7 linked regions of the Homo sapiens genome follow. The protein of the gene in region 1 purifies or fractionates together with the protein of each later gene. This does not show direct contact. Each region holds a gene or a part of one and is shown in the gene's direction. Other genes may lie near its edges. The genes, in order: DUSP16, IFFO1, ESPL1, IFT172, WDR62, GARRE1 and CAMKK2.

Evidence for each region.
Region 2: the proteins of DUSP16 (region 1) and IFFO1 purify together in Homo sapiens (affinity purification with mass spectrometry; one large-scale study listed by BioGRID and IntAct). This does not show direct contact.
Region 3: the proteins of DUSP16 (region 1) and ESPL1 purify together in Homo sapiens (affinity purification with mass spectrometry; one large-scale study listed by BioGRID and IntAct). This does not show direct contact.
Region 4: the proteins of DUSP16 (region 1) and IFT172 purify together in Homo sapiens (affinity purification with mass spectrometry; one large-scale study listed by BioGRID and IntAct). This does not show direct contact.
Region 5: the proteins of DUSP16 (region 1) and WDR62 purify together in Homo sapiens (affinity purification with mass spectrometry; one large-scale study listed by BioGRID and IntAct). This does not show direct contact.
Region 6: the proteins of DUSP16 (region 1) and GARRE1 purify together in Homo sapiens (affinity purification with mass spectrometry; one large-scale study listed by BioGRID and IntAct). This does not show direct contact.
Region 7: the proteins of DUSP16 (region 1) and CAMKK2 purify together in Homo sapiens (affinity purification with mass spectrometry; one large-scale study listed by BioGRID and IntAct). This does not show direct contact.

Annotation. Positions count from the first base shown.
Region 1 is NC_000012.12:12,472,782-12,475,863, reverse strand, and holds the end of DUSP16 (dual specificity protein phosphatase 16), read left to right. Parts: 3' UTR 1-2,582; downstream 2,583-3,082. UniProt on the Homo sapiens protein: Dual specificity protein phosphatase involved in the inactivation of MAP kinases. Dephosphorylates MAPK10 bound to ARRB2.
Region 2 is NC_000012.12:6,542,543-6,546,042, reverse strand, and holds part of IFFO1 (non-homologous end joining factor IFFO1), read left to right. Parts: intron 1-3,500. UniProt on the Homo sapiens protein: Nuclear matrix protein involved in the immobilization of broken DNA ends and the suppression of chromosome translocation during DNA double-strand breaks (DSBs).
Region 3 is NC_000012.12:53,271,299-53,274,798, forward strand, and holds part of ESPL1 (separin), read left to right. Parts: intron 1-1,422; coding exon 1,423-1,559; intron 1,560-3,500. UniProt on the Homo sapiens protein: Caspase-like protease, which plays a central role in the chromosome segregation by cleaving the SCC1/RAD21 subunit of the cohesin complex at the onset of anaphase. During most of the cell cycle, it is inactivated by different mechanisms.
Region 4 is NC_000002.12:27,479,744-27,483,243, reverse strand, and holds part of IFT172 (intraflagellar transport protein 172 homolog), read left to right. Parts: intron 1-1,983; coding exon 1,984-2,198; intron 2,199-3,094; coding exon 3,095-3,218; intron 3,219-3,500. UniProt on the Homo sapiens protein: Required for the maintenance and formation of cilia. Plays an indirect role in hedgehog (Hh) signaling, cilia being required for all activity of the hedgehog pathway.
Region 5 is NC_000019.10:36,102,753-36,105,608, forward strand, and holds the end of WDR62 (WD repeat-containing protein 62), read left to right. Parts: coding exon 1-99; intron 100-195; coding exon 196-322; intron 323-403; coding exon 404-455; intron 456-590; coding exon 591-1,229; intron 1,230-1,765; coding exon 1,766-1,923; intron 1,924-2,015; coding exon 2,016-2,276; 3' UTR 2,277-2,356; downstream 2,357-2,856. UniProt on the Homo sapiens protein: Required for cerebral cortical development. Plays a role in neuronal proliferation and migration.
Region 6 is NC_000019.10:34,261,054-34,264,553, forward strand, and holds part of GARRE1 (granule associated Rac and RHOG effector protein 1), read left to right. Parts: intron 1-3,500. UniProt on the Homo sapiens protein: Acts as an effector of RAC1.
Region 7 is NC_000012.12:121,286,710-121,290,209, reverse strand, and holds part of CAMKK2 (calcium/calmodulin-dependent protein kinase kinase 2), read left to right. Parts: intron 1-3,500. UniProt on the Homo sapiens protein: Calcium/calmodulin-dependent protein kinase belonging to a proposed calcium-triggered signaling cascade involved in a number of cellular processes. Isoform 1, isoform 2 and isoform 3 phosphorylate CAMK1 and CAMK4. Isoform 3 phosphorylates CAMK1D.

The DNA of each region.
Region 1 (3,082 bases):
GAGCAGCAGCACCTTCAAATTCTCAGCCAAAGCAGATGTTTTTGCCCTTTCTGCTTCACTGCATGGATACAGTTGGTAAAATGTAATAATATGGCAGAATTTTATAGGAAACTTCCTAGGGAGGTAAATTATGGGAAGATTAAGAAAGGTACAAATTGCTGAGGAGAAGCAGGAAACCTGTTTCCTTAGTGGCTTTTATCCCCTCGGCATGCGATGGGGCTGATGTTTCTATGATTGCCTCAGACTTTCACATTTACTAGTAGGGCTGAGAGAGGCTTTAGTGAGGAAGGAATATTCAGAATAAAACGGTTGAGAAAGCTGAGAAGACCATTGAGTTTTGATCAGTTGTGAATAGAGTGCAAAGCCATGGCCAAGCTGTTTTTGGAAACGCTGGCCGGCGTGTCTTCAGTGGAAAAAGCAAATCAAAATGGAGCGAGAGCAAAGGGGCGTCCTCAGTCCTCAACCTACAATCACTGTATGGAATCGGTCCTGGCAGCTGAACATAGGAGGTCACTGGAACAAGTGATAGTGCAGATTGGCTTTCAAACATCCTCCTGGCTTGAGTTTTATCAGCTACAATGTGGGTCCTCTTTTGAAGCCTTAATTCACAACAGCAGCTTTTTGGGGGTGGGGCTGGGCGGGTGTTGTCATTGTTCTTTCCCTTCCTGTAAGTGTCGCTAGTTGCTGCCTCGTATCTCAGGTTTTTCTCTGTTTTTGAGAAATGGACAGTTTTTTGACCAGGATGTGACTTCATGTTTCCTATGGTGACTTCTAAAACCAGCACAGAATGATATGACTCAACACAGACCGACTTGGTTATGGGGATGATGAGCCGCACAGACCTCACTAGTTGTGCACAAATAATGTGCTATGATGGGGTGTAAAGTGAAGGCAGAAGAGGGTCAGCCGCATTGTTATGATACTGGGAAAGTGCTGGTCAACGATTTGAGTTAGTTTTTAGATATACATTGAAATCTTTAATCAGACATTCTCAAGTTTCACACAGTAGTTTTTGATGTTATGTACACACACACCAAATGTGTAACAGTTCACCACTTCCAGAGTGTGGTCATGCCCAAAACATGTTTAAGAAAGGAAAGCAGTAGCTCCTTGCTAACGATGTTTCAGGAGGTTTGGGGGACTTGGTTTTAATGAGCTTCTGTCATTTAGGGCTTCTCTTGGCCATGGTCCCCCTTCCTTCTGGAACTGTGATGTAGTCACATCCTACAGCCTTTAGTGCTGGTTCACTAGTGTCAGATAATCAGTTCTTGGAATCGAGACTGCCGTGGCGAAGGGGTGGCCTCGGAGGCAGGCTCTGGAGCTGCTTGGATGTCTTTAGGTGGGGTGGTGGCTGGCTCTCTTCAGCATGTAATTGGGGAAACCCTCGCGTCTACTAGGGGTGATACAGATGGTGATTTTAAAGAGCAAAACTAGACTTCTATGTGAGAAGTGCTGGAAAATGATTTAGGACATGTGTAAAGTTAGATGGAAAGACTGTAAATGTTTAATATGAATATAGTGTTCTTTTGAAGTAAGGCCAGCTGTTGAACGGTTAAACTGTGCATTTCTCATTTTGATGTGTCATGTATGTTAATGTATGAAATGATTAAATAAAATCAAAACTGGTACCTGTTTATACATAAATACGAGAAAAGACCTATCTTTGCAGCCATAAACTCGGTGGGAACACCACCACTCAAGTTGCCAAAGGAGGCAGTGGTGAAACCTGTCCTGTTCTCACTTAAATGAGGATTTAGCTCAAAATAAAGTGGTGGTGTCATCAGGTTTATTCCGTGTTCTGTCATTCACATGGAACACCGGATGATTAGCTAACAGTTTAGTGCCAGCCTTCATTCTTTACTGTGTACGTTAAATGCACACTACAGTGAAAAAGCCTAAGACACTTGGTAAATATTTTCTAGCTGACTGATTCCAGAACACACAAGTACATGGTAGGAAAAAAAAGGCCAGCTACACACACATGGCCCATTTCGATATAACATGTAAATGATGTTACGATTCCTACAGGAAAAACAGGAAGGGCAATTGTTGAAGAGCTGTCCTTTGTCCTTGCCACATACATCTCAACAACCTCTCTGCTCATGACACTAGATTTGATGACTTATGAGACTAGAAACTTAGTCTCATCAGTTTCATAAAAATTAGGCATTGAAGGAATAAAGCTTCAGTGCAAACAGATGGAATATTGACTACAGAAAGAATCACAGGTGACCTTGAAGTTGGTTGAGTTGAAGTTACATTTAAGAAAATTTATAAGAAAGATTGGGCCGGGTGAGCTAGACTAGAAGAGCTATCTTGGCCAGGACCCTGCAGAAAAAGAGGTGGAAGTGAGATAGAGGAATAAAGGGAATTAGAATAAATCAGCCTCCAGAGATAGAGGGTAACAGGAGGAACAGTTGTTTCAGTGAGAGGCTTCCAATGAGAAGATGCAGATCTTGGGAGAGCCTGAAGTTCAGGCCAGTTGCTGACAGTGCTCGGAGCCCCTTCATGACCAGCCTCAGCAGGCTATTGTTGGAGGACTGGTTTGGATGTGACAACTACAATTAGACCAGGAATTAAACTAAGAGGGGAGGCTGGGGGCGGTGGCTCACGCTTGTAATCCCAGCACTTTGGGAGGCCAAGGCAGGTGGATTACCTGAGGTCAGGAGTTTGAGACCAACCGGGCCTACCTGGTGAAATCCCTTCTCTACTAAAAATACAAAAATTAGCCAGGTGTGGGTGCCTGTCATCCCAGCTACTTGGGAGGCTGAGGCACGAGAATTGCTTGAACCTAGGAGGTGGAGGTTACAGTGAGCCAAGATTTCGCCATTGCACTCCAGCCTGGGCAACAAGAGCGAAACTCCATTTTAAACAAAAAATAAACTAAGGGGAAATTAGTGAGAGGTGACAGCGCACTGGCAGCCCTCACACCCCTCACTCACTCTCAGCACCTCCTCTGCCTGGGCTTCCACTTTGGCGGCACTTGAGGAGCCCTTCAGCCCGCCGCTGCACTGTGGGAGCCCCTTTCTCGGCTGGCCAAGGCGGAGCCGGCTCCCTCAGCTTGCCGGGAGGTGTGGAGGGA
Region 2 (3,500 bases), 5.9 Mb from region 1:
CGGATAGAAGATTCATTCTTACTGTAGAGCTTACCAACCTCAGCATCGGATTCTTTTTCTTATTAAGTTGAAAACTTTTACCTTTTCACTTAAAGGGAGCATATTTTGGCTTCTCTTTCACATATCCAAATTGCCAGCATCACTACTCTTGTGCTTTGGGGCCATTATGAAGTAAAAATAAGGGTTCCTTGAACACGGGCACTGCCATACCACGACAGTCAATCTCATCACTGAGATGGCTCCTAAGTAACTAATGGGCAGGCAGTATAGACAGTGTGGATCCTTGGGACAGAGGGAGGGTTCATGTCCTGGTCTGGATAGAGTGAGGTTTTTTTTTTTTTTTCCGAGACGGAGTCTCGCTGTGTCACCCAGGCTGGAGTGCAGTGGCTTGAACTCGGCTCACTGCAAGCTCCACCTCCTGGGTTCACGCCATTCTCCTGCCTCAGCCTCCTGAGTAGCTGGGACTACAGGCGCCCGCCATCACGCCCGGCTAATTTCTTTTGTATTTTTTAGTAGAGATGGGGTTTCACCGTGTTAGCCAGGATGATCTCGATCTCCTGACCTCATGATCCGCCCACCTCGGCCTCCCAAAGTGCTGGGATTATAGGCGTGAGCCACCGCGCCCGGCAGAGAGAGTGAGATTTTATCAGGCCACTCAGAACAGCGTGCAATTTAAAACTTAGGAATTGTTTATTTCTGGAATATTTCATTTAATATTTTCAGATCAAGGTTCACCTTGGGTACCTGAAGCCGTGGAAAGTGAAACCAGTGGATAAGGAGAGAGTGACTTTATTCTTTTCATTTATTTATTTATTTATTTATTTTTTTGAGACGTAGTCTCGCTGTGTCGCCCAGGCTGGAGTGCAGTGGCGCGATCTCAGCTCACTGCAAGCTCCACCTCCCAGGTTCACGCCATTCTCCTGCCTCAGCCTCCAGAGTAGCTGGGACTACAGGCGCCTGCCACTACGCCCGGCTAATTTTTTGTATTTTTTAGTAGAGACGGGGTTTCACCATGTTAGCCAGGATGGTCTCGATCTCCTGACCTCGTGATCCACCCGCCTCGGCCTTCCAAAGTGCTGGGATTACAGGCGTGAGCCACCGCGCCCGGCCTTGACTTTATTCTTATTGCTGTCACATTGGAGGTGTTTGAGAAGGAAGTCGAGAAATTATTTTCCTATATACTCATTCTCCCAACACACATCAAACTGTCCTGCTCCTGCATCAAACCTGGTTTTCTTGGCCAGGTAGATGAGGTTTCCTGGATTTGTGCTGCTAGCTAAAGACATGGCAAGGGAAACCAGTACTCCCCACCCTCCCGTCTACCGCGGCTCACTGTTTCCTCCTCCTGCCTGACCTGATTCTTGTCTCCCTCTTTTGGATGGTGGATTTAAGGTTTGTGTTTTCACTGTGCCTTCAACCAACTAGGGGCCTTTGTGCGGCCATCTTCGTGAGAAGAGATCTCGGGCTGCCATCTCTCCCTAGTCTTCCCTGGACCTCAAGTGCCCAGTGTAAAACATGATCTGAAAGAACGAAAATAATATCTTAAATGGAATCATGCCTTTTAAGCTATTTTTGGCTGGGCGTGGTGGCTCTCGCCTGTAATCCCAGCACTTTGGGAGGCCAACGCGGGCAGATCACTTGAGGTCAGGAGTGTGAGACCAGCCTGGCCACCAACATGTGAAACCCCGTCTCTACTAAAAATACAAAAAGTAGCCAGGCATTGTGGTGGGCACCTGTAATCCCAGCTACTTGGGAGGCTGAGGCAGGAGAATTGCTGGAATCTGGGAGGTGGAGGCTGCAGTGAGCTGAGATTGTGCCACTGCACCACAGCCTGGGTGACAGAGCAAGATTCCATCTCAGGAAAAAAAAAAAAAAAAGTATTTTCAAATCATCTGACTCCTCCTCTCTCCCAGTGCAATGACTTTAGGCAGCAGTCCCCAACCTTTTTGGTACCAGGGACTGGTTTGTGGAAGACAGTTTTTCCACTGACCCGGGGGAAATGATTTTGAGATGATTCAAACATTACATTTATTGTGTACTTTATTACTATTTTTAAAAATTATTATTATTATTTTTAGAGACAGAGTTTTGCTCTTGTTGCCCAGGCTGGAGTGCAATGGCGCAATCTTGGCTCACTGCAGCCTCCGCCTCCCGGGCTCAAGCAATTCTCCTGCCTCAGCCTCCCAAGTAGCTGGGATTACGGGCATGTGCCACCACGCCTGGCTAATTTTGTATTTTTAGTAGAGATGGGGTTTCTCCATGTTGGTCAAGCTGGTCTCGAACTCCCGACCTCAGGTGATCCACCACCTCGGCCTCCCAAAGTGCTGGGATTACAGGCATGAGCCACCGCACCCGGCCTGTGCACTTTATTTCTATTATTATTACATTATAATATATAATGAAATAATTATACATCTCACCATAATGTAGAATCAGTGGGAGCCATGAACTTGTTTTCCGCAACTAGACGGTCCCATCTGGGGGTGATGGGAGATAGTGACAGATCATCAGGCATTAGATTCTCATAAGGAGCACACAGCCTAGATCCCTCGCATGCACAGTTCACGTAAGGTAGGGTTCAGGATCCTGTGAGAATCTAATGCCGCCGCGGATCTGACAGGAGGTGGAGCTCAGGCTGTAATGCCAGTGATGGGGAGCAGCTGTAAATACAGATGAAGCTTCACTCACTTGCCCACTGCTCACCTCCTGCTATTTGGCCTGGTTCCTAACAGGCCACAGACAGGTACTGGTCCGTGGCCTGGGGTTTGGGGACTTCTGCATTAGGGGAACCGTTAGGAGGACTTGCTGACCTCAGGAGTACCCAAGGTGCCTTTATCTTTGTGACCTTTGATCTCTCAGGGTCACTAAGATGGAGCAAGGTAAAGCCAAGGCCCAGAGTGGTGGGCGGGAGGCAGTTCTTCCCCACCGCTCCTCACCTCTCTCTGTCTCCTCCCGTCCCACCCCCAAGTCTGTTCACACAGCGAGCCTGCAGTTTTCAAGGTGGCTTGTCAAGGACATCTCCTGACATGCACGTTCACCTCCTGACCTTGTTCCTGCTGTAAATTTGTGAATTAAGTGGGGACATAGACATATGCAGAGACTACTGGTGGCAGTACTAGCCTTGTATTTCAGTAGAATATATTTGGTTCATTTCCTTCTTCCCAGTCTCCCTGAGTGATGGTTCCAGAACCCAGCTCCCTGCACTCCGGTTCTTCCAAGGTGGAGAAATTGGGGTGTAGGCAGCTGATCTGAACAAGGGCTGGTGGCACTGTATTTTCCCCCTGGGTTGAACAGTCACCGTGTCCTGCTCCTCCCACTACTGTGGGGCCCCAGCTGTGGATCCAAGCCTGCCAGGGAAGCTGTCCCCACTAGGGCTTCTCACCCAGCCAGCCGCCATCTCACCCCAAATGTCACTGTCCTGACCATCTCTGCTGTCTGGCCCTGTAACCTGTTTCCTTCTTTCTCTAAGTTCCCACCCTCTCTGTCCAATCCACATTATG
Region 3 (3,500 bases), about 41 Mb from region 1:
AACGAGCTCACCTTGCAGGTTCAAGCGACTCTCCTGCCTCAGCCTCCCAAGTAGCTGGGACTGCAGGCGCGCACCACTATGCCTGGCTAATTTTTGTATTTTTTGTAGAGATGATGTCTGGCCATATTGTCCAGGCTGGTCTTGAACTCCTGGACTCGAGTGATCTGCCCACCTTGGCTTCCCTGAAACCCTGTCTCTACTAAAAATAGAAAACTAGCCAGGCAAGGTGGTGCATGCCTGTAATCCCAGCTACTTGGTAGGCTGAGGCAGGAGAGTCGCTTGAACCTGCAAGGTGGAGGTTGCAGTGAGCCAAGATTGCACCACTGCACTCCAGCCTGGGCAAGAGGGCACTCCAGCCTGGGCAACAAGAGCGAAACTCCATCTCAAAAAAAAAGGAGAATTCTTCCCACAGAGTACTGAAGACTGACTTTATTTTCTCCCAGTCATCTATGTTGATGGCCAAGAAGCTGCATAAATAAGTTATTATCATTTATTCAGCAAATATTTGTTGCCGGGCGCAGTGGCTCACGCCTGTAATCCCAGCACTTTGGGAGGCCGAGGCGGGCGGATAACGAGGTCAGGAGATCGAGACCATCCTGGCTAACAGTGAAACCCCGTCTCTACTAAAAATACAAAAAATTAGCCGGGCGTGGTGGCAGGCGCCTGTACTCCCAGCTACTCAGGAGGCTGAGGCAGGAGAATGGTGTGAACCCGGGAGGTGGAGCTTGCAGTGAGCCAAGATCGTGCCACTGCTCTCCAGTCTGAGCGACAGAGCAAGACTCTGTCTCAAAAAAAAAAAAAAAAAATTTGTTGAGTACTCACTGTGTGCAACGCACTATTTGGAGTACTTGGATGTGTCGGTAAGCAAAACAAAGTTTCCTTCCCTCATGGAGCCACGTTCTAGTTTGGGGGGAAAAGATAAACAGATTCAGTAAATAAGTGAATTATCAACATATTAGAACGTGATAAGAAATGTGGGGGAAAGGAAAAGTAGAGCAGGATAAGAAAGGGAATTGGGAGTCTAAGGTGCATGACGGGGGGCAAGTTACCACCTTAAATCAGGTGGTCAGGGTAGACCTCATTGAGAGGGTGACATGAGCAAAGGCTTGGAGGATGTGAGGGAGTCAGCCATGTGGGTTCCTGGAAAAGAACATCCCTGGCAGAAGAAACAGCCAGTGCTGAGGCAGGAGGGGGTCTCGTTTGTAAAATGAGTGCAGATGGGCTGAGTGGTGTGAAGGGCATGGGCCTATTTGGGGCAGGAAGGGGAGAGCCGCCCCTTCCCCATTCCTAGCAGTAGGGGTTCCTGTCTGATCTGGAAGCTGCTGAACTGACCACAGATCCAGCTGATCTCTGCTGCCTCTCCAGGAGGAGAGGGTGGTGGGAGCCTTTCCTATGGTCAATTGTGCCTTTTCTCCCCTGCAGCTTCTTACACCAGTAATTTGGCCTACAGCTTCTATAGTCACAAGCTCTATGCCGAGGCCTGTGCCATCTCTGAGCCGCTCTGTCAGCACCTGGGTTTGGTGAAGCCAGGCACTTATCCCGAGGTGCCTCCTGAGAAGGTACAAGGGAATGAGAGATGCAGGAAAGGAGCTTATGTGGTTGGGGAGCGGGGGGAGCGGGGAAGGGCCTCACCAGCACCCTGCCTTGGAGTGGGAGGTTAATAGCAGCATGTTGACACCAGTATCTGGAGCAGTGTTTCCCAAACCTCACTGTACTGTTACTTACTGTTGACTCATTTTTTTTTTTTTTTTTTTTTGAGACGAGTCTCGCTCTGTCGCCCAGGCTGGAGTGCAGTGGCACAATCTTGGCTCACTGCAACCTTTGCCTCAGCAAAGGTTCAAGCAATTCTCCTGCCTCAGCCTCCCAAGTAGCTGGGATTACAGGTGCCCACCACCACGCCCAGCTAATTTTTGTATTTTTTGTAGAGACGGGGTTTCACCATTTTGGTTGGCCAGGCTGGTCTCAAACTCCAGACCTCAGGTGATCCGCCTGCCTCAGCCTCCCAAAGTGCTGGGATTACAGGTGTGAGCCACCGCAGCCGGCCTGACTCACTTTTTATATTTAGCCTGGTCCTAAGCTACTGGTTTCCAGCCAAGCTGCACATTAGAATCACCTGAGTGACCTTTAAGAAAATTCTAATGTCTGCCCCGAGTTAATTGCATCAGAATCTCTAGTGTTTGCCGGGCGTGATGGCTCACGCCTATAATTCCAGCACTTTGGGAGGCTGAGGCAGGTGGATCACCTGAGGTCTGGAGTTTGAGACCAGCCTGTCCAACATGGTGAAACCCCGTCTCTACTGAAAATACAAACATTAGCCAGGCGTGGTGGCATGTGCCTGTAATCCCAGCTACTTTGGAGGCTGAGGCAGGAGAATTGCCTGAACCCAGGAGGTGGAGTTTGCAGTGAGCCGAGATTGTGCTACTGTACTCCAGCCTGGGCTACAGAGCAAGACTCCATCTCACATCTGAATATTTTCAAAGATCCCCCAGGTGGTCCTTTGAGCAAGGAGAGTGAGAACCTGGGTTCTTGGTTTTTTGGTTTTTTTTTTTTTTTTTTTTTTTTTTTTTTGGAGACTGAGTCTTGCTCTTGCTTTGTCACCCAGGCTGGAGTGCAGTGGCACGATCTCGGCTCACTGCAACCTCCACCTCCTGGGTTCAAGCAATTCTCTGCCTCAGCCTCCTGAGTAGCTGGGATTATAGGCATGCGCCACCATGCCTGGCTAATTTTTGTATTTTTAGTAGAGACGGGGGTTTCATCATCTTGGCCGGGCTGGTCTTGAACTCCTGACCTCATGATCCACCCGCCTCGGCCTCCCAAAGTGCTGGGATTACCGGCGCAAGCCACCGCGCTGGGCAAGAACCAGTGTTCTTAAGCAAGAATACCTGTGAACTGATGCATTGGCGGGATTGGCAAGCAAGATGAGTCATAGAGGGGCTTGGGTTTCATCTTAACTGAGATGATAAGCCTCTAAAGGATTTAAGTGGAGGCATGACAGCAGACAGGCATTTTGGATTTCCCTGACTTCGCTGTGATGAATGGAGTGCAGGAGAAAAGACCGGGTAATCAGGCTGCTATAGTATTCTAGGCAGGGAAGGGTGGGCTGAACTGAAGCAGCTGCACGAGGGATGGAATGCAGTGGATCGGTGCGAGAAGCCAAGGATTAACCTGGTAGGTGACTGGCGGGAGGGAGAGCGAGAGAAGGGAACATCAGAGATGGCCCCACATTTCTTACTCAGGAGAAGGCAGTGCCATTTGCTGAGAAGGATTACAGGAGAAGCAGGTTTTCAAGGGTGTGGATGATGAACATAGGGGTGGAGTGGATTGCAGCCTCTGAGTTGAAGGCACTCAGAGTATTTCATTCTTAGGTGTCTCCTGCCTTGGGTGGGTGTGGCTCAGGAGGCCCACCTGCCAACCCCGCCCCCTCATGTGGTGTATGTACCTATTGCATGCATATCCCCTTCCACCATACACACTCACTGGTTCCTCTCCAGTTTGGTCTG
Region 4 (3,500 bases), on another chromosome or scaffold:
GGAGTTTGAGACCAGCATGGGCAACACAGTGAAACCCTGTCTCTACCAAAAAAACAAAAAATAAATACAAAAATTAGTCGGGCATGGTGGCATGGGCCTGTAGTCCCAGCTACTCAGGAAGCCGAAGTGGAAAGATCACTTGAGCCCAGGAGGTTGAGCCTGCAAGTGAGCTGAAATAGCACCACTGCACTACAGCCTGGGTGACAGAACAAGACCGTGTCTCAAAAAAAAAAAAAAAAAAAGATGCTGTGGAATAGGGGATAAGGAAATTCCAGGAGCCCTCCTAGAGGAGGTTGGACTTCTAAGGCATTTGGATTGAGATACTAAGAGAGGAAGCTAGAGGAGAACTCAGGGACAGAGAAAAAGTTGGATGTGGCCACTGAGAGGATTTGTGTTTAGGAGCCTGGAGCTTACTGCTTATAAGAAGGGATGAATTAGGTGAAAGGGACCTTGAGACAAAGGGAAATAAAAACTCTTAGAGTAATGAAAAGTGAAAATTATTCCCATTTATGTAAAATATATATATTTATGTATGTAGATTCATAGAAAAAAGAGTTAATAGTTTACTCTGGAAAGGGGAAAGGAAAAAGATGGGGGATAAAAAGGAAACTTTCATGTTTTACTCTATATAATTGTGTGTTGTTTGAATCATTTACATTAAGAATTACTTGTGAGCCGTGCCTGTAATCCCAGCACTTTGGGAGGCCGAGGCGGGTGGATCACCTGAGGTCAGGAGTTGGAAACCAGCCTGACGTGAAACCCGTCTCTACTAAATACAAAAAAATTAGCTGGGCGTGGTGGCACATGCCTGTAATCCCAGCTTTCTGGGAGGCTGAGGCAGGAGAATCGCTTGAACCTGGGAGGCAGAGGTTGCAGTGAGCCAAGATCGCATGCCATTGAACTCCAGACTGGGCAACAAGAGTGAAATGCCATCTCAAAAAAAAAAAGAATTACTTGTATAGGCCGGGCACAGTGTCTCACTCCTGTAATCCCAGCACTTTGGGAGGTCAAGGCGGGTGGATGACCTGAGGTCAGGAGTTCAGGACCAGCCTGGCCAACATGGTGAAACCCCGTCTCTACTAAAAATATAAAAATTAGCCGGGCATGGTGGAACGTGCCCGGAATCCCAGCTACTCGGAAGGCTGAGGCAGGAGAATTGCTTGAACCCGGGAGGGGAGGTTGCAGTGAGGTGAGAACGCGCCACTGCACTGCAGCCCCGGCGACAGAGTGAGACTCCATCTAAAAAAAAAAAAAAAGAAGAATTATTCGTATAATACTGAAATTTGACCCTCCTTAAAAAAAGAAGCCCTATGCTCTTTGTGGGCCCAGACGGTGTTGGTTAATGTGTAGCACATCTCCTTTTCTGAGGAGCTTTACCAGGTGCATATTAAAAATTTCCAATACATGCTGGGCGTGGTGGCTCACGCCTGTGATCCCAGCACTTTGGGAGGCTGAGACGGGCTGATCACAAGGTCAGGAGTTCGAGACCAGCCTGACCAACATGGTGAAACCCCATCTCTACTAAAAACAGAAAAATTAGCCTGGTATGGTGGCACACACCTGTAATCCCAGCTACTCAGGAGGCTGAGACAGGAGAATCGCTTGAACCTGGGGAGGCGGAGGTTGCAGCGATGAGATTGTGCCACTGCACTCCAGCCTGGGCGGCAGAGTGAGACTCTGTCTCAAAAAAAAAAAAAAGAAAAAAGAAAATTCCAATATACAAGCATTTTGAGGTTTTTCTAGAGCACAAGGTCAACCCCTATGTGTATAGGGGTGTGTGTGTGTGTGTATGTGTGTGTGTGTGTGTGTGTGTGTGTGACAATTTGTGAAGAGTTCAGGATTAGGATGTGTTGGGATAGGGAAATGTTGGAAGAGATTTCTGCAGGGTATGATGGTCAGAGTGAATGTACCAGGTGTTGAGAGTGAGGAATTTCTCGGGTGGAGTCTTCGAAGAGTGATTGAAACCCTCTACTTCTGTCTTAGGGGAAGTTGGTTAACCACCCGTGTCCACCCTATGCCTTGGCATGGGCAACCAATAGCATCGTGGCTGCAGGCTGTGATCGGAAAATTGTAGCCTATGGAAAAGAAGGTCACATGCTACAAACTTTTGATTATAGCCGTGACCCTCAGGAGCGGGAGTTCACCACAGCTGTATCAAGTCCTGGGGGCCAGTCTGTTGTGCTAGGAAGTTATGACAGGTAAGTCCCCTTTCCAGTTTTATCTACTGCCTACTTTCCCTGCGAACACTCTCTGCTTTAGCCAAATTATTCTGAGCCAGAGTGCGAGACTGGAGCAGAATCAAATGTATGTATGTAATTCATGCGCTTTCCTCTTCCTGCTCCCGCTATCCATTGGTGTGCTGGCAGTTCCAAAATGTCCTGGGCTCTTGTTTTGTCTCTGTGCCGCTCCCTGCACTTCCACAGCAGAATTCATCTCTATTTTCTGTTTCCATTGCCCCCTTTGAGACCGCTTAGAGTTTCTCACATTATATTACAGTTTGTTGTTTGCAAACTACTGTTGTTTAGCCAGATAGATGGCTAAATCAGAGTCCTTGAGAAGGGGGCTTATTATTCATCTTTTCAGTGCCTAGATTAGCATCTATATGCTATATATATTTAAGATATGCTCAGATGTTTGGCGAATGAATGAATGAATGATGGAACAGCAGATAAACAGCCATGTTCCAGGTCTCATCATTTCTCTGGCATGTGTTTAACCCCAGCTTTATCAGTCCTGTCTTTCTATCCCCTTCAATCTTATGTCTCCTTGTATTCTCTTCTTTCTTCACTGACTCCTACCATTTATCTCCTTGTTCCATATTTTTTTGCTCCTAGTAGCTTATTTTTCTCACCTGCCCTGGTCTTTTTGTTTTCTCTGCTCCCCTCACTCTTATTCTGTTTTAGTTTTGCCTTGATTTTCCCAGCTTATTTCCTGTGCACCTTTATATCCTCTTCTGCTAGACTGCCTAGCTTGTCTGTTCTTTTTATTTCCTTTCTTTTCTGATATAGCAAGACTAATTTCCTTTGGTTATCAGCCCATTTGCACTCTTTAGCTCAGCCTCAATCTCTTCTAAAAGCCACATACTTTATTTCAGGCTTCGGGTGTTCAACTGGATCCCTCGAAGAAGCATCTGGGAAGAGGCAAAGCCCAAGGAGATTACCAATTTATACACCATCACTGCCTTGGCCTGGAAGCGGGATGGCTCACGGCTCTGTGTGGTGTGTTACTAGTAATCCCTTTCTGGATTGGTGACTTTCACCAAACTAGAAAAAAATCCTGCCTTATCCTAAAGCACTGTTCCCTGACACTATAGAATCTCCTCTTTCCTTTTGACCCTGACCTAAAATTCTGGCATTAAAGGCAGGAAAGAGAAATTCATACTTTACCCTAGGTCACAAAAGGGACAAAAAATTGTGTGTAGGCAGGGCTAGTTTTTCCCTTTTATCCCATTAATATGTTGTGCCCTTGAGTCCAATGATTGTAGCCTCTTTCCTTTTGGT
Region 5 (2,856 bases), on another chromosome or scaffold:
TCTGGGAGACGTGGAGGCCTCTGAAGCTGAAGACCACTTCTTCAACCCACGCCTGAGTATCTCCACGCAGTTCCTCTCAAGCCTCCAGAAGGCATCCAGGTAGAAGCTGGCCAAGCACTGCCCACCCTCTGGCTCCTCAACAGTGCCCCAGGGCAGGCTGAATGAGAATCATCCCCCCTGCTCTCCTCCCCACAGGTTCACCCATACCTTCCCTCCCCGGGCAACCCAGTGCCTTGTGAAGTCTCCAGAGGTCAAGCTCATGGACCGAGGCGGAAGCCAGCCCAGAGCAGGTACTGGCTACGCCTCCCCAGACAGGACCCACGTGAGTATTGGGCCCACCTCCGTCAGGGCACGGGGCTGGGAACCCTGAGGCCTTGTCCTCACCTCAGAGCTGTGCCTGCAGGTCCTCGCTGCAGGGAAGGCTGAAGAGACCCTGGAGGCCTGGCGCCCACCACGTGAGTGCCCCAGTCCCAGACGGACAGTCCTGGGTTTCTCGGCGAGTGGCCGGATGTCCAGCCTAGCTGTGGGGCGTGGGGGCCCTAGCCATCAGTTCTGTGTGGTGGAGTCAGTGCCATCTGCTTCCGTTACAGCTCCCTGCCTTACGAGCCTGGCGTCCTGTGTCCCTGCTTCCTCCGTGCTGCCCACAGACAGGAATCTCCCAACGCCCACATCTGCACCCACCCCAGGCCTGGCTCAGGGTGTCCATGCCCCCTCCACCTGTTCCTACATGGAGGCCACTGCCAGCTCCCGTGCCAGGATATCACGCAGCATCTCCCTCGGTGACAGTGAGGGCCCTATCGTGGCCACACTGGCCCAGCCCCTCCGTAGGCCATCGTCCGTTGGGGAGCTGGCCTCCTTGGGCCAGGAGCTTCAGGCCATCACCACCGCGACAACACCCAGTTTGGACAGTGAGGGCCAAGAGCCTGCCCTGCGTTCCTGGGGCAACCACGAGGCCCGGGCCAACCTGAGACTGACCCTGTCAAGTGCCTGTGATGGGCTCCTGCAGCCCCCCGTGGATACCCAGCCTGGCGTCACCGTCCCTGCAGTGAGCTTCCCAGCCCCTAGCCCTGTGGAAGAGAGCGCCCTGAGGCTCCACGGCTCTGCCTTTCGCCCAAGTCTCCCAGCTCCTGAGTCCCCTGGCCTTCCTGCCCACCCCAGTAACCCCCAGCTTCCAGAGGCCCGGCCTGGCATCCCTGGCGGCACTGCCTCCCTCCTGGAGCCCACCTCCGGTGAGTACAGCCCTGGAGCAAGGACTGTCCCCTAAGCTCATCCTGTGTGCTAGTTGGCTCAGCTCCAAAGATGGATACTTGACCTGGCCACAGGGACTGTGCCATTCATTCATTCGTGCATTAACTTAAATATTTAATGAGCATTACATGTTGGGCTTTGTGCTAAACCCTGGGACATGGGACATGGTGGTAAACAACACAGAGAACTGACAGCTTCAATGGGGACAATGCCCAGACTAAACCTTTAAGGAACCCGTCATATGTATCACGAAGTGACACATGCTTAGGAGGGACAGAGGAGGGCGAGGGAGTGCAGGGTGGGGACAGGGGTTGGGATTACAAACCAGAAGATAAGAAGAGGCTTCAGGGAGGAGGCTGCATTGGAGCAGAGACCTGTAGGAGTGAAGGGGAGGGAGCCTTGGGGACCCAGAGAAGTGTTCCAGACAGAAGTACAGCATGGAGTCCACCCAGTCGCTCTGGCCGCTCACACCAATGGAATGCAGCTCATCTTGCTCATTCCCTTCTCTCTACCCCAGGTGCACTTGGTCTGTTACAGGGCAGCCCTGCCCGCTGGAGTGAGCCCTGGGTGCCGGTTGAAGCCCTGCCCCCATCTCCCCTTGAGCTGAGCAGGGTGGGGAACATCTTGCACAGGCTGCAGACCACCTTCCAAGAAGCCCTCGACCTTTACCGTGTGGTGAGCTAAGCCCCAGAGTTGGGAAAGGGTTGAGGGGTCTCTTGAGACCGCCCGGCCTTGGTGGCCCCTGACAAGGCTGGCATCCCTTGCAGTTGGTCTCCAGTGGCCAGGTGGACACCGGGCAGCAGCAGGCACGGACTGAGCTGGTCTCCACCTTCCTGTGGATCCACAGCCAGCTGGAGGCTGAATGCCTGGTGGGGACTAGTGTGGCCCCAGCCCAGGCTCTGCCCAGCCCAGGACCCCCGTCCCCACCGACGCTGTACCCCCTGGCCAGCCCAGACCTGCAGGCCCTGCTGGAACACTACTCGGAGCTGCTGGTGCAGGCCGTGCGGAGGAAGGCACGGGGGCACTGAGGGCGCAGCCCCTCCACCGCAGCCCTGCTGCTTCTGAGGACTTAGGTATTTTAAGCGAATAAACTGACAGCTTTGAGGAATGGTTCCTGGTGTCTGTTTGGGCCTATCCACAAAGCCCTCTTCAAGTGGAAGTGGGGAGGGAGGGTAGAAGGTGATGCCCAGAGGACTCGTGTCTGTCAGTGGAGAGCATGGGACCAGCGCTCCCAAGAAGTTCAGGAACTGCAGCCATGACCTCAGGGCCAGTCCTCCCACACTGCCCACAGAGCTGCCACAGACCAGTGTGAGGTGCTTACCCAGTGGGGCCCATTTGTGCCCCAGGGAGGAGCCAGACCCTCTTACCTGCCCCCTGCCAGTGCCTGAGAACTCACTGGGGCTGCTGTGATCACCATGTGCCTACCTTGCCCAGCAGTCCACGCTTTGCCATATCATGGCTCAGGGCCTCTGGGCCAAGGCCACACTAGATCCCACAAAGTCCACGGTGGTGGTGTCCCCATCTGCAACAGGGGAAACTGAGGACCCATGAACAGGCTTGCCCAAGCTGGGTATGGTGGCCTGCACCTATAATCCCGGCTACTCAGGA
Region 6 (3,500 bases), on another chromosome or scaffold:
CGTGTCCCTGTTGTTGCCTCTGGCTGCAAGGGTCTCTCCCTTGCTTAGCGTCTGTCCTCCCAGTACCATCTGAGTAGAAGATAGCTGCACGTGGAGATTTCTTGGTAAGGAGAGAATGTGAGTGGTTGAGGGCTCTGCATCTAAGCTGCTTGGATCAGATCCTGGTCTTGGGATGCTGGCTAATCTTTCAGTTTTCTGATTTGTAGAATGGGGATAATAGTAGCACCTTTCTCTTAGTGTTGCAGTGAGGGCTCTGAGCGTGCTACCCGGCACCTGTGATAAGTATTCAATGACAGTATTAGCTCTCGTTGGTATTCATAAAGTAGTAACTGGCCTCTGGTTCATACATCAGTTTTCTTTGAGCTTAGATAGCCTAAATAATTAATCCCCATGGAACTGCTTGCTTCTGGGTGCATTGAATAAGCTGATAAACAGACACTGGGAAGTAATGACAGATAAGCTCTTCCTACACTGCTCATCCAGGGAATCCAGCCTGCAGTTCTCAGGGGAGACTTCTGGAGAAGGCTGTTCTTGAGCTGAGTACTGTGGGAAAAAGTAAGTCCAGTGCCACAGCAAGAGGGGAGGACTCTTGGGCAGGGGCATGACACGTCCAAAGGTGTGGAGGTGAGAGCAAGCATGAGGTATTTGAGCTGCAGGAGATTGAGGGTAGAGTCTGGACAGGTATGAATAAGGAGTAGAGGGAAATGACATTGGAAAGTGGGAGCAGTCCTTGAAATAACTAATAACAATGTCTAACTGGGCACTAACAGCACTTCAGGTCCTGTGCTGAGTCCTTCGACTCACTGCGCTAACCAGGTTTGATGCTGAGAGCTTTGTCTACATTGCATTGTTTAATCCTCACAACAACCCTTTGATGTAGGTACTTACCTCTGGTATGTGTGGCATCATGTCACATGTCACCTGGTAGGTCTCCCTGCCTTTTTTTTTGAAATGGAATCTTGCTCTGTCACCCTGGCTGGAAGGCAGTGGCAGGATCTCGACTTACTGCAACCTCTGCCTCCCTGGGTTCAAGCGATTCTTCTGCCTCAGCCTCCCGAGTAGCTAGGACTACAGGTGAGTGCCACCATGCCTGGCTAATTTTTGTATTTGTAATAGAGGCGGGGTTTCACCATATTGGCCAGGCTGGTCTTGAACTCCTTACCTTGTGATCCGCCCACCTTGGTCTCCCAAAGTGCTGGGATTACAGGAGTGAGCCACCATGCCCAGCTGCTGCTTTTTTTTTTTTTTTTTTTTTTTTTTTTGAGGCGGAGTCTCTCTCTCACCCAGGCTGGAATGCAGTAGTGCGATCTCAGCTCATTGCAACCTCCACCTCCTGGGTCGAAGCAATTCTCCTGCCTTGGCCTCCCAAGTAGCTGGGATTACAGGCATGCGTCACCACGCCCAGCTAATTTTTGTATTTTTAGTAGAGATGGGGTTTCACCATATTGGCTAGGCTGGTCTGGAACTCCTGACCTCAGGTGATCCGCCTGCCTTGGCCTCCCAAGGTGCTGGGATTGTAGGCGTGAGTCACCTCGCCTGGCCTCTGCTTCTTGATTCAGCCTGCACATGGCTGCCAAGATAACTCCCAGTGTCTTATATATGTTTAAAAGCTTTTTGTGATCCTGTTTCCTGATGAAGTCCAAGCACACTAAGATCCTCTGACTTCATGAAAAACCACGAAGTTAAAATGTAAAAATATTTATATCTTAGAATTTAATAAAAACAGGACAGGTGCAGATGTGGATCAAGCTCAGAGAAATCAGTGAAAGAAGCAAGGTACAGAACAATGTATGTTTGCCCATTTGTGTTTTTCTAATTTTAAAAAATTTCTCCACTTTTGAAGTAATATGAGCTCATTTGTTTAAAAAAATATATATAGGCCAGGCATGGTGGCTCACGCCTGTAATCCCAGCACTTTGAGAGGCTGAGGCGGGCGGATCACCTGAGGTCCAGAGTTTGAGACCAGCCTGACAACATGGTGAAACCCCACCTCTACTAAAAATACAAAAATTAACTGGGCATGGTGGCGGGTGCCTGTAATCCCAGCTGTCCAGGAGGCTGCAGCAGGAGAATTGCTTGAACCTGGGAGGTGGAGGTTGCAGTGAGCCAAGATCGTGCCACTGCACTCCAGCCTGGGTGACAGAGCAAGATTCCATCTCAAAAAATAAATAAATAAAAATAAAATAAATAATGTCTCCCTCTCTCGATAGAGAGATAGATAGATAGATAGATAGATAGATAGATAGATATACATGAAATAGGTTTATAAGTGCAGAAATAATTTATGGAATGATAGAAAAGAAACAGTGGTTGTTTTTGGGATGAGACCCCAGAAAACCAGGCTGTTAGGCTGAGTTAGCTTTTTCTTTGCATACCATTTTGTATGGTGTGAATTTTTTTCCCTGTGTATATGTATTTTCTTTTTTTTCTTTTTTTTTTTTTGAGACAGAGTCTTGCTCTGTTGCCTAGGCTGGAGTGAAGTGGTGCAATCTTGGCTCACTGCAACCTCCGCCTCCTGGGTTCAAGCGATTCTCCTGCCTCAGCCTCCTGAGTAGCTGGGATTACAGGTGCCCGCCACTACGTCTGGCTAATTTTTGTATTTTTAATAGAGACAGGGTTTCACCATGTTGGCCATGTTGGCCAGGTTGGTCTCGAACTCCTGACCTCAAGTGATCCATCCACCTCGGCCTCCCAAAGTGCTGGGATTACAGGCGCGAGTCACCGCACCCGGTCTATGTTTTCATTTTAACAATAACTTTTAAAATAAATGTCTATGATGGACATGGCTGTTGTGTAGAGTGAATGTAGCATGGAGGTTAAGAGTGAGGACTGTGCAAGGCGGCTTGGGTTCAAGGCCTGCCCCTGCCTTGACCTCAGTTTACCTCCTCTGAAAATGGGGAGGTAGTAATACCTGCCTCCTGGGGTTGTAGTGAGGCATTACTGAGTTAATATTTGTAAAGTCCTTGGAACAGTTCCCAGGAGGTATGTGTTTGTCGTCGTCTCTGTTGCTCTGTCCCTGTGCTATGCATGACCGTAAGTGTAAAGATGTGTCCAGCCTCTGTCTCTGATGCTCCCAGTTCATTTGGAAAGGGAGAGCATGCAGCTAATGACAGAGACAGCAGAGGCTGCAGGAGTCAGAAAGGCTCCTTGGGAACTGAGGTGGCCCAAGATGGTTTCATCAAAATGATGGTTGTTAAATATGGGTAATTTCTAGAGGGAAAATAACACAAAGGGACTTTTTCCATGTTGTGTGTCCCAGCCAGCCTGAGGCAGGCAGAGGAGTCAGAAACAGGACAAGAGCTTTGAGGAGGCCTGAAATTTGGACGTGTCATGTGATGACATGTCTTTTTTTTTTTGGAGGGGGGGACGGAGTCTTGCTCTGTTGCCCAGGCTAGAATGCAGTGGCATGATCTCAGCTCACTGCAAGCTCTGCCTCCCCGGTTCACGCCATTCTCCTGCCTCAGCCTCCTGAGTAGCTGGGACTACAGGTGCCCGCCACC
Region 7 (3,500 bases), about 110 Mb from region 1:
TGGCCTGAGAGGAAGGCCAGCAGAGATCAGCTCCTGAACCCTTCCATGTTCCAGACAAGGGAAGCGGAGTACAGAAAGGAAGGGAGGACGTGATCTTTGCGGAACAATTAGCTTGAGCCACGCTGTGTACTAGGGACTGCCATAGAGAAGATCAACTCTATAGCCACCCTCTTAGGTAGGTCTGGCACCATTTCACAGATGAGAAAATCAAGGCTCAAGGTCCTCTGGGATCTGTATCCTTTCCTGATGTACCTTCTCTTCCTGAGGTCTTAGGCCTCCCTTGGCTCCCCGCCCCGCCTTTTTTTTTTTTTTTTTTAAAGACAGGGTCTTGCTCTGTCTCTCAGGCTGGAGTGCAGTAGCATGATCTCAGCTCACCGCAACCTCTGCCTCCTGGGTTCAGGCGATTGTCGTGCCTCAACCTTCCAAGTAGCTGGAATTACAGGCACGTCCCATCACGCCTGGCTAATTTTTGTATTTTTAGTGGAGACGAGGTTTCACCATGTAGGCCAGGCTGGTCTCGAACTCCTGACCTCAGGTGATCCGCCCGCCTCAGTCTCCGAAAGTGCTGGGATTACAGGCATGAGCCATCGCTCCCAACTTTGGCTCCTTGTACTGGCAAATTATGCTCGTTTTCTGATGGAGTGGAGTCCACCTTCCCTGGCAGGTTATGGGATGGAAAGCATTTCCGAATAGTTTTGGGCTCTGAGAAATAAGATTTAGAATTATTATTTGTTTTCTTCCCTGATTGGACCCCTTTCTCAACAAAACCAAGATAATAATAATAAAAAAGACATCTTTAAAATGATGTGAGTTCTGTTAGATTTTGTAGGGAAGACCCCTGGCTGCTGCTTTCCCCGTTGGGGACGTTAGTGATCCAAATGGGAAAGGGATTATTTTAGCTGCCAGTGTTTCGGTTTCAGTCATGTTTGTAGTATTGCCACTGAAGTTTTTTTTTTTCAATTATGAAACATTTTAAGCATAGAGAAAAGCCAAAGTTTTGCTTTGTTTTTTTAAACTGGCTCGCTTTTTGGAAAGCTGGAAGGAGGCCCAGGAGGTGACGGAAACGGGGCAGAGTGGGGCGCCCTGGCTCTGCAGGCTCGACCCTTCACCCAGCCCGCTCTTTTGGTTGGGGTGGGGTGGGGGGATTGGTGCTGGTGACAGGCTATACCCTGGGGAACTGAGAAATACTGGGACTTGGTTCCTGTCCCAGGTGAGTGGTCTCAGAGCCTTTTGGAAAAGATGAACAATTCTGACATCCTTTCCCTTTTGAAAAGGAATGAAAGAAAATGAGAAGATTCTGTAGTGCCCCCACCCCCACCCCACCCCATCCTGAAAGCTGCTGAGCAACTATTTTTATGTTGCCTCTTTTTATCCTGGTGGCTTCTGTAAATAGTTGAGAGATGGCAGTTGCAGAGATAAAAATGCTAATCCCAACCTGGAAAAGAGAGGGATGGTGGTCCTCGGAGGAAAGGGGGGTGGGAGTCAGTGGGGAGGCCAAGGTGTTGCCCCTCTGCCCACGTGGCTTAGGCATGAGGCAGGAACCCAGCGGGTGGGGTAGGAGCATTGTGGGTGGTGCCTGAGAGAAGCTTCTGTTAGAGAAGTTTAAATGGGGAACCAGTGTTTTGCGGGGGCCAGGGTGCAGAAGGGAGAGCACACTCCCTTTTTCATTTTTGAAATGTGCTTTGGGGTATTGCCTTCAAGGCTTCTGGCAGAGAAATATTTTATTCGGTTCATCCTGGACAGTTCTGCCCTCTAGGTCCAGGTGTGGGGACGTTGGGCCCCGCAGAGCTGCAGAGCTGGCTCCCTGCACTCTTCTTGTCCCTCAGCTGAGGAGGCTTGCAGCTAGATTTAGCATGATGTCCAAAAGGTGGGGAGGAGGGAGGGAGAGGGGCCGTGGGTAGCCCAGGCACCGATGCCTGTGGGTTTCGAGCTGGCCCTCTCCATCTCTGATTTGCCAAGAGCATGCTGGGTAGAAGTCTTTTTCTTGTTCATTACAAACTGAAATTCCAGTTGTTTTCCAACCTCTTCCTTTGGTTCAGTGAAAGATTGAGAGGGATGCAGTGGGGGAAGAGGAAGGAAGGAAGATGGTTTCTACACTTTATTTCCAAATACCTCCCTCCTCTAAACACATACCCAAACTCACCCACACATTCGTAAGCTCCTCACACTTCAAGGCTGGGGCCACCCATGCACACCTGGTTTTATTTTTATTTATATTTTTTAAATTTAAAAATTTTCGAGACAGAGCCTTTCTCTGTTGCACAGGCTGGAATGCAATGGTGCAATCATAGCTCAGTACAGCCCCAACCTCCTGGCCTCAAGGGATCCTCTCACCTCAGCCTCTGACGGAGCTGGGACCACAGGTGTGCAGCACCACACTTGGCTAATGTAAACATTTTTTTGTGTGGTGATGGGGTCTTGCTGTGTTGCCCAAGCTGGTCTCGAATCCTGGCCTCAAGCGATCTTCCTGCTTCGGCCTCCCAAAGCACTAGCATTATAGGCGTGAGCCACCACTGTACCTGGCCCACAGCTGGCTTTAGATGTCTGACTGCGTGACTGGGGCCATTCTTTCAGTGATATTTCATTACTGACTAAGTAATAGCTGCCTAAGAATTCTTAAGACAGTTGGCCCTGGCAAGCAGCAAGACAGGGGAACTGCTTACTCTGTGAGTATCCAGGGCCTCAAGGGTCACTGGGCTGCAGGGCAGGCCACCTGGATCTCCTCCTGGCCCAACTGCGAGCCTGCTGGGCTGCCTGGATGAGGTCATCTCAACTTCTCTGAGTCTCGGTGACTCCATCTGCAGCCTCTGTTGCGCTGATTGCAAAAGCCATGTGAGAATGTGCTCTTATGACACATGGAAGCAAGGATGTGAAATGATATGCATACGCTATTTTTAATTTTGTAAAATGTGATGCATATGGACAAGGGCTAGAGGGGAAGATGAAGAGTTAGCACGGCAGGATTAGAGATTTAAGAGATTTCGTTTTAAAATAAATTGAAACCAGCTAGGCACAGTGGCTCATGCCTATAATCCCAGCACTTTGGGAGGCTGAGGCAGGTGGATCACTTGAGCCCAGGAGTTTGAGAACAGCCTGGGCAACATGGCAAAACCCCATCTCTACCAAAAATACAAAAAATTAGCCAAGTGTGGTGGTGTATGCCTGTAGTCCCAGATACTTGGGAGGTAAGGTGGGAGGATCACCTGAGCCCAGGAGTTCGAGGCTGCAGTGAACTATGATTGCACCACTGCATTCCAGCCTGGGCAATAGAGTGAGACCCTGTCCCCAACCGCCCCGCCCCCCAAAAAAAGGAAGCCAACTGAGGGTCGTGAATTCAGTAACTGCCAAAGTTCTTTCTTGGCAATAGCTTCTATATAGTGAGCATTCACACTTGTGCCCTCCTGAAGCACTCAGAAGCTGGATGATTGTGAGCAAGTCAGCCAGGCTCTCTGTGCCTCAGTTTCCCCACTGGTGGAACAGGGATAATAGCAGGACCTATT